Linked DNA regions of Homo sapiens: region 1 is linked to region 2. A link means that fine-mapping ties the variant in region 2 to the expression of a gene that starts in the linked region. Tissue or cell type: skeletal muscle. Region 2 holds a variant in brackets; the other region holds the start of a gene. All regions are shown on one strand. Distances are between the middles of the regions.

Region 1 (5,739 bases), 95 kb before region 2:
GGGTGCCCTCACTATGTTGCTCAGGCTGGTCTCGAACTCCTGGCCTCAAGCAATCCTCCCACCTTACCCTCCCAAGTAGCTGGGATTACAGGCACAAGCAAGGGTTGACTAATTTTTTAACTCCTAAAAATATACTCAGTCCTATGATAGCATAGAGTTTAATATATTAAGGACCTTAAAATCTTGTTGAATATTCAAGCATCAATCTATAAGCTTGGTCAGTTCAGGGCTAGCATAGTATGTTGCTATTACAATGGGATGTATTCATACATATAGATAGGAATGAGGCCTATTACAGAGAACTTGACAGAATTTAGTGTAGATGTGGAAGGTAATAAGCAATCAGATGACAATGGTGCATTTGAAAAGGTACATCTGGCAACTAATTCTACAGCATTGTAGCATTAGTGTGGAGTATATGAATAGATAATCAGTCATTGTAGTTGAAATCTCCCTAAAAAGTAAAAAAACTGCCCTTAAATAGCTTAATATCTTTCGAAGAATAACAGTTTTAGGAAGCCCAGGATAACAAAAAGCTATATATGCATTGGATAAATGTTATTTGCTGGGGATGACAAATACGTCACCTGCCATTGTGACCCACGCTCATAACATGTATGAGCTCATAACATATGTATGGTTATGTATCATGGAACTTGTTGCTGAAGTAACTAGAATGTATTGAGAGTTTATAGAACAGCTCTCTGGGCAGCTGTTACTAATCAACTTTGGCACTGGGATTAAACATTTTTATACCTTCTAGCATTTAGCAATTCATGCCAATTGAGGTGTCATTGAAGAGTTGGGGCTTGAATGAGAGGATCTCTCCATCCTTATTTTTCTTTTGCTCTCTGACACGAACTTTCTGATCTGTGGCCTTCGTATCCTCCACATGTTACCACTTTAAGTCGTATCTGGATGTGTTCATGCTGATCCATCTTCTAGTCTCACCTTCCAGTTTGTCCTACTTTATAATCCTTCAGGTTTAATTCAAAACCGAATTTATCCATGATATAGCTTTCTTTTCTCTGGACTCATAAGTAAGCCCCATCACTCTTAGCCCTTTTTTGTGGGCCTGTCTGGGTTCCATAATTAGATTGTGATCCTCTAGGAAAGGATTGTACCTGACAGCCTCTTCTATTTCCCATAGTAAAACTAGTTGATTAATTGTTGGTAAAATTTACATCATATAGCAGAAATGGCTTCTTCAGTAAAACAGACTGAAGAATATGCTAGAGACTGGCTGCAATATAAGTGAGGTCTAATTGGTTTTAAATGAAGTATTTTCCACTCTTTCATTTCTTGAGTGGTTTCAATTTAGAGCATCTCTTCGGTTCTACCTTTAATTCCCACATTTAGATTACAGTGAGATCATTTTCTGTTCCTCAATTTTGGTTCCAGACCAACATTTTAGATTTTAATACTACTATAATCTTGCTTTATCCAACAATAAAATCTTGCCAAAAGTACAAGTACTATTGAAGATATTTGTTGTATTTTCATTAAGAAAAGCTATTTTATAAAAGGGATGGATGATATAAAATAATACGTTTTTAATGAGAATTTTGAGCCCAATTAGCACGTTTGTTTGTTTGTTTTCTCTCCAGCAACCATAGTAAGTCCACCAAACCTTGATTTAGATCATCTGGTAATACAATGAAGTTGGGAAACGGTTTAGGTCGTATCTCAGAGGGTCCGCTCCTCTCACCATCCAAGTTTCTGCAGCAGCAGTGTTAAGAAAGATTCCTTGCCGGGCGCGGTAGGTCACGCCTGTAATCCCAGCACTTTGGGAGGCAGAGGCGGGCGGATCACTTGAGGTCAGGAGATCGAGACCATCCTGGCCAACATGGTGAAACCCCGTCTCTACTAAAAATACAAAAATTAACCGGGTGTGGTGGTGCGTGCCTGTAGTCCCAGCTACTCGGGAGCCTGAGGCAGGAGAATAGCTTGAACCCAGGAAGCAGAGGTTGCAGTGAGCCGAGATCGCGCCACTGCACTCCAGCCTGGGCGACAGAGCGAGACTCTGTCTCAAAAAAAAAAAATTCTTAATTTAATGCTTAGTCGACTCCTCCACTACTGAGGGAGCAAGGCGGAGAAGTTTTGATGCGGAGCGTTGCCTGAAAGATGTTTTTGTAGAGGCATTTTAGAAATGCCCCTGGGAGGTTAGAGTAGGGGGCTGCTCTGGATTTGTGAGGTCCGTTTTAACTTCCCTTGAAAAGCGCATCATGTGGGCGGGGGCAAGCGCCTGGCTGCGCCGGGGGGCACCACGGTGCTGCCCATCACGGGAACCGTCCGGGGTCGGTCCGTGAGCCCCTTTCTCCGCCCACCCAGCGGTCCGGCCGCGCATGCGCTGAGCTGGCGGGCCCGAGTGTTGTCGGCTGGGAAATGGCGGCCGCGGGCTTGGTCGCTGTGGCAGCGGCTGCCGAGTACTCTGGCACGGTAGCGTCGGGAGGTAACCTCCCTGGTGTTCACTGCGGCCCAAGCTCCGGGGCAGGCCCTGGTTTTGGCCCGGGCTCGTGGAGCCGCTCTCTCGATCGAGCCCTGGAGGAGGCGGCGGTCACTGGGGTGCTGAGCCTGAGCGGCCGGAAACTGAGGGAGTTTCCCCGGGGAGCGGCCAACCACGACCTGACGGACACCACCCGGGCGGGTGAGCGGGGCGGGGGGCGTCTCTGCCCGTCGGAGACCCGGCGCCGGGAGCCGCCCCGGCCGGGGGAGGCGGATGCGGGGGAGTTACAGCAGCTCGTCCCGTAGGCGCCGGGTCCGGACCCGGGTAACGGGGAGAAGCCGACGGCGCCAGCCCTCCGGGCCTGCGCCAGACCCAGAGCCTGGGGAGAGGCGGCGGGCGGCGGCATCTCTCGGGGAAGGGGGCCGGAGTGATTGATGGATGATTTTTTAGGCTTTCTGAGGAAAATCAGTTTCTGCCACGGCGGAGGTAGACCCTTGCCCCGCCCCGGTTTCTGCAGGCCCTTTCGGATTTGGGGTGCCGAATGGACCTGCTAAGACGGGAACGTTAGCGCGAGCTCTTCACAGATCAGAGTAGCAGGGGTGTCTGGACGAGCTGCATTGTCAGGAAGGGTCGGTCTCAGCCCTGGAGTTTTTTCGAAAGAAGTGTTGGGGAGCGTGTGTTTAAAGTGGACCCGAAAGAAGTGTTGGGGTGTGTGTGTGTTTAAAGTGAACCCGAGAGAAGTGTTGGGGTGTGTGTGTGTTTAAAGTGAACCCCAAAGAAGTGCTGGGGTGTGTGTGAAGTGAACCCGAACGCTGGAACGTCTTTCTTCGCCTCCATCTAGTTGACTTACAAAATAAATACGCTTGTAAAAATAACTAGAGCCCACTTTCCGACTCCCATTAGTTTCCTCTTCCACTCCTCATGTCCTCCAAAAAAAAGTTGAAGCAAACTACTTAGAAAAGATAGTCTAACATATTTGTACTTGCTATTCCTTTTTAAAGCATTACTTCGTGTTATGTATGTTTTCGAACACAGGAAAGAGAATAAGAAAGTAGGTATTATTTGGCTTTCTTAGTTGTGGCGAACAGTGTCTGGTGCCCGAGTTGTTCATCATCATGTTTGCAGTGCCGTCATCACTGCTCACTGCAGCCTCGACCTCCCGGGCTCAGGTGATCCTCCCACCTCAGCCTCCTGAGTAGCTGGGACTACAGGCAGCCGCCACCACGCCCAGCTAATTTTATATATATATATATATATATATATATAAAATATACATATATATATAATATACATATAAATATTATATATAAAATATATATATATTTTTTCGAGACGGTATCTCGCTCTTGTCTCCCAGGCTGGAGTGGAATGACACAATCTCTGCTCATTGCAACCTCTGCCTCCCAGGCTCAGGTGATCCTCCCACCTCAGCCTCCCGAGTAGCTGGGACTACAGGCGCCCGCCACCACACCCGGCTAATTTTTGGATTTTTATTAGAGACGGGATTTCACCATGTTGGCCAGGCAGGTCTCGAACTCCTGACCTCAGGTGATTCGCCCGCCTCGGCCTCCCAAAGTGCTGGGATTACAGGCGTGAGCCACCGCGTCCGGCCAATATTTTGTATTTTTTTGTAGAGACGGGGTTTTGCTATGTTGCCCAGGCTGGTCTCCAACTCCTGGGCTCAAGCTATCCGCCGACCTCGGCCTTACAAAAGGTTGAGATTACAGGCGTGAGCCACTGCGGCTGGCAGTACTTGGTGTCTTATTTTATTTTAAAATCTTAGATTGAGCACATTTTCTATGCTTTGCAGTCATTAAAAATTTATAAGTATTACATATGATTCACTCATTTTGGAAAAATAAACAGAACTGTTAAACTAAAGAAGCGATTCTTTCCAAAGAAACTTTTGCTGTAGTTTAAAATAGAAGAAATTAAATGCCTGCTTATTTAATCTCTTTTTGGAAACAGTTGAACTGAATATTTTTTAGTGATTTAAAGTTTCTTGCTAAGGTAAATATGAGCAGCCACTTTCCTTTTGTGTGTGTTCTGGTAGACGGCATGTAAAATTATCATTCACACCTCAGATTTCCTGCTTCTGTTTAGGAGATGGCTATATGGTATAGTGATTTCATATTGGTGTGAGTCATTTCATTGTTACTACATCAAGCCTGAAGCTAAAGAACAAGTTGATTACAGGAGTCTGTCTAGCTCATTTTCTCACCTGCTTTTCAGTAGGTCTAGGAGCACCGTGTTGAGTCCTTAAATATTTTATTGACTAAGAAAATCCAAGTGCATTTATGAAGAATAATAAGTAATACCAAAGAGGTTTTTCCTTACTGTGCTCTGAGTTTTTAAGTATGGTGTTGCCTACACTTTAATAGTTTTGTATAGAAACCACATTTTTTGTTGGTTGATTTTTCATCTGGTCAAAACGTGTAAAAAGAAAATAAAAAGATTACAAGGTATTTTATAAGCTATTAGACTAGATTCATTTCTAACATGTAGTAATATCACTTATGAAATATAAAAAAAAATCTTTGGCAGACCTTGCTCGTTACCCAGTCTCTGTTTTAAACAGATAATTTAATGCCAATGACATCATTTATTGAGTGTTCACTATTTGTAATTCACCGTGTTAGATATTTTGAAATATACTGCCTTGTTAAATGCACACAATAATTTGTGGATTAAATACTATCCCCACTTTACATGTGAGGGATCACCTAGAGAAAGTCATATGGCTATCACCACTATATAGTATCACTGGTAGGATTTTGGCCCAGGTTATAGCTATCACCACTATATAGTATCACTGGTAGGATTTTGGCCCAGGTTATAGCTATCACCACTATGTAGTATCAGTGGTAGGATTTTGGCCCAGGTTCATCTAACTCTGTTCTTTCCACTGTACCATGCAACCTCTTCATATAGAAATAGGTGTTGCTGTTCCTGTTTTTACAGATGGTGGAAACCAGCATTTAGAGATGTTCACTAATTTGCTCAAAGATCTGTGGCTAAAGGACAGAGGAGACGGTATTAGCCAGGAGTTTAGTCTAGTTTGAGGTGACTCCAAAAGCCATAGTCTGTTTTTATGGCAGGTACTTTGATTAATTTGGAACCAACTTATGGTAGTTATTAGGTATGCTTAGACCTTATAGAAAATTTAAAGCCAAGTAAAATTAGTTGAATGCTAATATATAAAAGTTGCCTTGCATACTGTTTTTTCATAATGTGTAGCATGTACATGGTAGAGCTGTTGTCCTTCAAATTCGTATCCTAGGGAACAGCATATA
Region 2 (5,739 bases):
ACGTTGTCCCTTTCAGGAGCAATTATGTTTGCCTCTCCACATTTTAGAAGAGAAAGGTTTGAGCCAGGTTGCAGTGACGGTCCAGGCTCTCCTGGAACTTGCCCCACCCAAGCAACAGCAGCACCAGTTATCTGCTGTTTGAGGATCCCCAGGACGGTGGGCACTGGCCTGGCCAAAACAAGGAACAGGACACCGTGATTGCTGCTGCCAGCTGTCTGCTTAAACAAAGCTCTTGTGTGTTCTCAGAAGGGACCGTTCCCATGATTCCTAACAGGAATATTTTGCTTCATTTCTCCATTTTAGGGGAGGTTATTTCCATTTCCATTGAATTTTTTTACGAAGACACCATTGGTTTTCTCAGATGAAACTTCTCTTACTGAAAACCCAGCACCTAACTTGGCTGTGTTTTCCTGGAGAGCAGGCGTGTTTCACGTGCCAGAAAGCACATCTTCTGTGTTAGGCACAAGCATGCTGTGCCATTGTTTTTACCTGGTCTCAAGACAACTGGTCTGCTGGTTTCTAAACTTGGTTGTTCATTAGACTCTCCTGGAGTATTTGTTAAAATACAGATTCACATTCAGTAGAGCTGGGGTAAGGCCTAGGAATCTGCATTTTCAACAACCATTGCACATGTTTTTGTTTTTGTTGGAGAAGGAGTTCTGCTCAGTCGCCCAGGCTAGAGTGCAGTGGCATAATCTCAGCTCACTGCAACCTCCGCCTCCCGGGCTCAAGCGATTCTCCTGCCTCAGCCTCCCGAGTAGCTGGGACAACAGGTGCCCGCCACCATGCCTGGCTAATTTTCTTGTATTTTTAGTAGAGATGGGATTTTGTCATGTTGGCCAGGCTGGTCTCAAACTCCTGACTTCAAGTGATCCACCTGCCTCGGCCTCCCAAAATGCTGGGATTACAGGCGTGAGCCACTGTGCCCGGCCTCCCAGAGTGCTGGGATGACAGGCGTGAGCCCCCGCGCCCGGCCTCCGAGAGTGCTGGGATTACAGGCGTGAGCCACTGTGCCCGGCCTCTGAGGGTGCTGGGATTACAGGCGTGAGCCACTGCGCCCGGCGCCCGGCCCATTGCACGTGTTTTTCATGTAGTGGAACCACTGTTCAAAGCTAGATATTTGTATGTTTGCGGGGGAGGGTAATGGCCCCCTGCATTTTTCACCCACATTTAAAATCAAAAGCTATATTATGAGGAGTTGGACTGTTCTGTCAAAGGCAAAACAAAAATAATATAGAAGGCCTAGGTTTTGCATAGTCTTCTTTTTTTTAAGAGTTGGGGTCTTGCCGTATTGCCCAGGCTGGTCTGAAACTCCTGGGCTCAACTGATCCTCCCGCCTCAGCCTCCCAAAGTGCTGGGATTACTGGAGTGAGCCATCGGGCCTGGCCCAGATTTTGCATAGTAAAACAGTGAAACAGATAGAGTTGTATTTAAGGTCAGTATTCTAGGCCTCCCTTCAACTGCAGTCATACCATCATAGAAGATAGTTCTATGTCATCCTGTTATCTGGACATTATAATAAACAACAAGCCCTCTATACACAGGTTCCAAACCCCGTTATCTAGACATTATCAACAACAAGCCCTCTCTCTATACAGAGTTTCCAAATTCTGAAGCTGATAGCGCACTTGGTCTCACTGAGCCTCCCTCCCCGCCCTCCTGCTGCTCCTCAGACATCTGGGCCTGCAGACACATTGCAGTTACAGCACATACACTTCTAGCTCGGAAAAGCCTAGTTTCTTGTATTTCTTTCAGGTAACTGCCAGTTTCTGTGGCTGAATTTAAGCACTTACAGCATCTTCCTAGCTGGGTGTGGTGGCTCACACCTGTAATCTCAGCACTTTGGGAGGCTGAGGCGGGCAGATCACCTGAAGTTGGGAGTTTGAGACCAGCCTGACCAACATGGAGAAACCCCGTCTCTACTAAAAATACAAAATTAGCTGGGCGTGGTGGTGCATGCCTGTAATCCCAGCTACTCGGGAGGCTGAGGCAGGAGAATTGCTTGAACCCAGGAGGCGGAGGTTGTGGTGAGCCAAGATCGTGCCATTGCACCCCAGCCTGGGCAACAAAAGCGAAATTCCATCTCAAAAAAAGAAAACGCGCCCCATCTCGCTCCACCACAAGCGCCTTTATATACTCAATGATGGGTGGAGGAAAAGGGCCCAAGGGCTCACACCGCACAGGAGCCTTTACTCAAGTTTCAGCTAGTTTTCCTTCCCCTGCATTTTGAACTCCTTTTAGTTGTTGGTGATATCCTTTGGTGTTCACTGCCTTTGTAAAACAAGTAAATAAAGTAAGCGGAAGATATCTCTTTTGTTTCTGTAGTTGTTAACTGTTCTGGATTTTCTTTACAATGCATCCATTTGGGCATAATGTTATCCCTCTTTTTATCAGGTAAATGTAGCATCTAAAAGTAGCTTTGGATCAAATCATGTTGAATACCTGGTCAAAGTAATGTTTTCTTCCTTGTTCTTGCAGAGAAACAAATTCATCAGAACATTACCACTTGACCAGGTTTAAAATTGTATAACAGGCTGGGCATGGTGGCTCATGCCTATAATCCCAGCACTTTGGGAGGCCGAGGCAAGAGGATCACTTGAGCCCAGGAGTTTGAGAGCAGCCTGGGCAACATAGCAAGACCCTGTCTCCCAAAAATTAAAAAAAAAAAAAAAAAACCAGGTGTGGTGGCACCTGCCTGTACTCCCAGCTACTCAGGAGGCTGGGGTGGGAGGATCACTTGAGCCTGGGAGGTTGAGGCTACAGTGAGCCATGGCTGCACCACTGCACTCCAGCCTGGGCAACAGAGTGAGACCCCATCTCTAAAAATAAATTGTACAACATCTAACTTCAATGCCCAATCTTATAGAACAAAAGTAAAATGTCTTTATGTAAGACCCCATTATATTTACAGTTCCCAACAGACCCACCAACTCTTATATACCCTTATATAACTTGTTTAGAATTTAGCCATGTGCATTTTTAAACTGTGTTTGTCAACATTAAGCCTCAGTACAGTCTCCAAATTATATGCCACCAGAAATGAAATTCAGCAAAGGACAGGATTGTTTTTAACATACGCAAGCCAGCCTGGCCAACATGGTGAAACCTTGTCTCTACTAAAAATACAAAAATTAGCTGGGCGTGGTGGTGGGCACCTGTAATCCCAGCTACTTGGGTGGCTGAGGCACAAGAATCGCTTCAACCTGGAAGCCGAAGGTTGCAGTGGGCTGAGATTGTGCCACTGCACTCCAGCCTGGGCAACAGAGCGAGACTCTGTCTCAAAAAAAAAAAAAAAAAAAAACCCACCAAACCAAAAATATACTATGCAAGGAATAATTCTAGAAGACATTACATAATGCAATACTTGCAACATTTGCAACTAATTTTCCCATAGGGATAAATGGAAATTTCAACTTATTTCAAATTTTGCACATATTATGAAACCTTATTAATGTATTTTTATCAAACTAAATCAGATTTGTATTTGAATTGTTAGGAAAAACCATGTGCAGTTTTGGCTGATAATTGAAGGAAAAATATCAAAT[G/A]CTTTGAATTTTTTTTCTCTTTTTTCAAACCCTCTGCAGAGGTAGGAAGGTATGAATTTCTTTTTTATGTCAAGATGCAAAAACAAATCATGATGCTTTTGTTGGGAGAATTTTTGTATTCAGTATTTTGTATGTACCTTTTTTTTTTTAAATTGGAAAGCACAATTCGGTTTAACATTTAGCTTTGCTTGACTCCAGTGTAAGATGAAGATGACCTTGTCACAGCTCCCCTGACCTGAAGCAGAGCCCTTCCCATCACTGACAGTGTTGGGGGTTGAGAGCCCCCCAGCAGAGCCCTTCCCATCACTGACAGTGTGTCGGCAGCTGAGAGCTCCCCCAGCAGAGCCCTTCCCATCACTGAACAGTGTTGGCGGCTGAGAGCCCCCCAGCAGAGCCCTTCCCATCACTGACAGTGTTGGGGGCTGAGAGCCCCCCAGCAGAGCCCTTCCCATCACTGAACAGTGTTGGCGGCTGAGAGCCCCCCAGCAGAGCCCTTCCCATCACTGACAGTGTTGGGGGCTGAGAGCCCCCCTAGCAGAGCCCTTCCCATCACTGACAGTGTCTGGGGCTGAGAGCCCCCCCTAGCAGAGCCCTTCCCATCACTGACAGTGTTGGGGGCTGAGAGCCCCCCAGCAGAGCCCTTCCCATCACTGACAGTGTCTGGGGCTGAGAGCCCCCCAGCAGAGCCCTTCCCATCACTGACAGTGTCTGGGGCTGAGAGCCCCCCCTAGCAGAGCCCTTCCCATCACTGACAGTGTCGGGTTGAGAGCCACCCCCAGCAGAGCCCTTGCCACGTACAGAGATTTTCTGTCAGCAGTTTCCCAGTATTTCAGACTCATAATCTGTGTTTAGCACTCCAGTGTTCTCTTGTAATAGCCAGGTCTGGAAACGACCCATGGAAAGAGGGGCCTTTGTATTCTGCTAGAACACAGAGCATAGTAGTAGATCACTTTTCTGAAGAGCTTTTTAAAATACAGCTAATCAAGGAGTTTGCGATTTCTCTTACTTTCTACAGCTCAGCAGTGACTAATGATGTGTGACTATGCGAATGAGTTTGATGAATTCGTAAAAACTAAGCGCTTAAATGGTTATAGAAATGAAAACATGGATATTTAGAAGCCTTTCTATATACACAGTGCAGTTGAGATGGTTTACAGCAAATTTCGTTTTATTTCTGAAAATGTTGTAAACATGTAATTAGTGAAAGATTTTGTAAAACATTGTCCTGTATTTTTGTCTGTAAATATATTGCATAAGTTCTAAGTATAAATATGTCAGTATCATGTATGTTATTTTAAATTGCCTGTACGCCACTTTACACATTGACATTCAAATAAAAGCCAACACTTCAGTGGCGTGTAATAAAAGCTGATTGGAGCGTGTTCATACCTGAGGTGTGGTTCCCTTGGCAAAGGTGAATCAAGGAAAGAGCATCTCATTTCCAGAGGGAATGTCAGTGGAAATGGGGGCTTCGGGACAAACTTTTGAGATCAAATTCATTTTTTAAGGAAGTACAGATATCAAGACTGAGCTTTATTTGGAGTTAGATAGAAGGCTTAATTCATGAAATGTATGTGACACATTAGGACAACTTTGCTCTTGGAAACCTTTAGCATCCCAAGGCATTGTTTTGACTCATCAAGGCAAGCATGATCTGGTGGGTGCATTTTTTTTCTAGGAGAAGAGGGAGAGTGACAGCTTTCCTATTTGCCAGGCACAAGTTAGATATTTTCACACACCTGATTTCTTTTCATCTTAACACTCCATAAAGTGGGGATTGGTGGCTCTAGTGTTTCACTTGTCAAAAATATCTCCAAACTAGCCTTCCAGAGAACCTGTGTCCCCATCTTTATAGTTTGTAAAGTTGTATATCCTAACATCCTATTTCTAGCTTGTATTTATAATTTGTATCCCTGTTTCCTAGAAAAGTTGCTGAAGCAGCTTACAACTGGATATGTATTCCATGCCATTTTCACCTGAATAAAAACACCAAAGTGACGATAAATCTAAAAGGCAGGCAGGAACCAACATTTATTAAAACTTTGCTGTGTATATATTATGCTGGACAGCTAATAACATCATATTGTAATTCCTACTGAATACTTTTGCTCATAAGAGTTTTTTCACTACAGACAAATTGGGTAAAATCAAAATCTGACATTACAGGAATTACTCAAGTTTCAATGCGTCACTG

Direction of the effects. Alleles are on the strand shown, and positions count from the first base shown. SD is a standard deviation of normalised expression in the study named.
In carriers of allele G in region 2, the expression in skeletal muscle of the gene that starts at base 2,361 in region 1 tends to be higher than with A alone (moderate effect, 0.43 SD a copy in FUSION).

The links. PIP is the estimated chance that this variant, and not a neighbour inherited with it, causes the effect.
Region 1: it holds the start of LRCH3, and the variant in region 2 is the best candidate, but not a certain one, in a credible set for the expression of LRCH3 in skeletal muscle (FUSION, PIP 0.51).

Annotation. Positions count from the first base shown.
Region 1 is chr3:197,788,894-197,794,632 of GRCh38, forward strand. LRCH3 (leucine rich repeats and calponin homology domain containing 3) reads left to right here and starts at 2,361. Exons shown (of 21, transcript NM_001365715.1): 1 at 2,361-2,647. The coding sequence starts at 2,386. RefSeq lists enhancers at 2,021-2,735, 2,349-2,548, 5,189-5,268 and a silencer at 2,589-2,858.
Region 2 is chr3:197,883,525-197,889,263 of GRCh38, forward strand. LRCH3 (leucine rich repeats and calponin homology domain containing 3) reads left to right here. Exons shown (of 21, transcript NM_001365715.1): 21 at 17-4,912. The coding sequence ends at 142. It overlaps DRC9 (dynein regulatory complex subunit 9), which reads right to left. Exons shown (of 12, transcript NM_032263.5): 12 at 5,553-5,739. Among named protein-coding and RNA genes, the nearest start is that of RPL35A, 64 kb to the right of the region's middle. The variant G/A (reference allele first, on the strand shown) is at 3,546.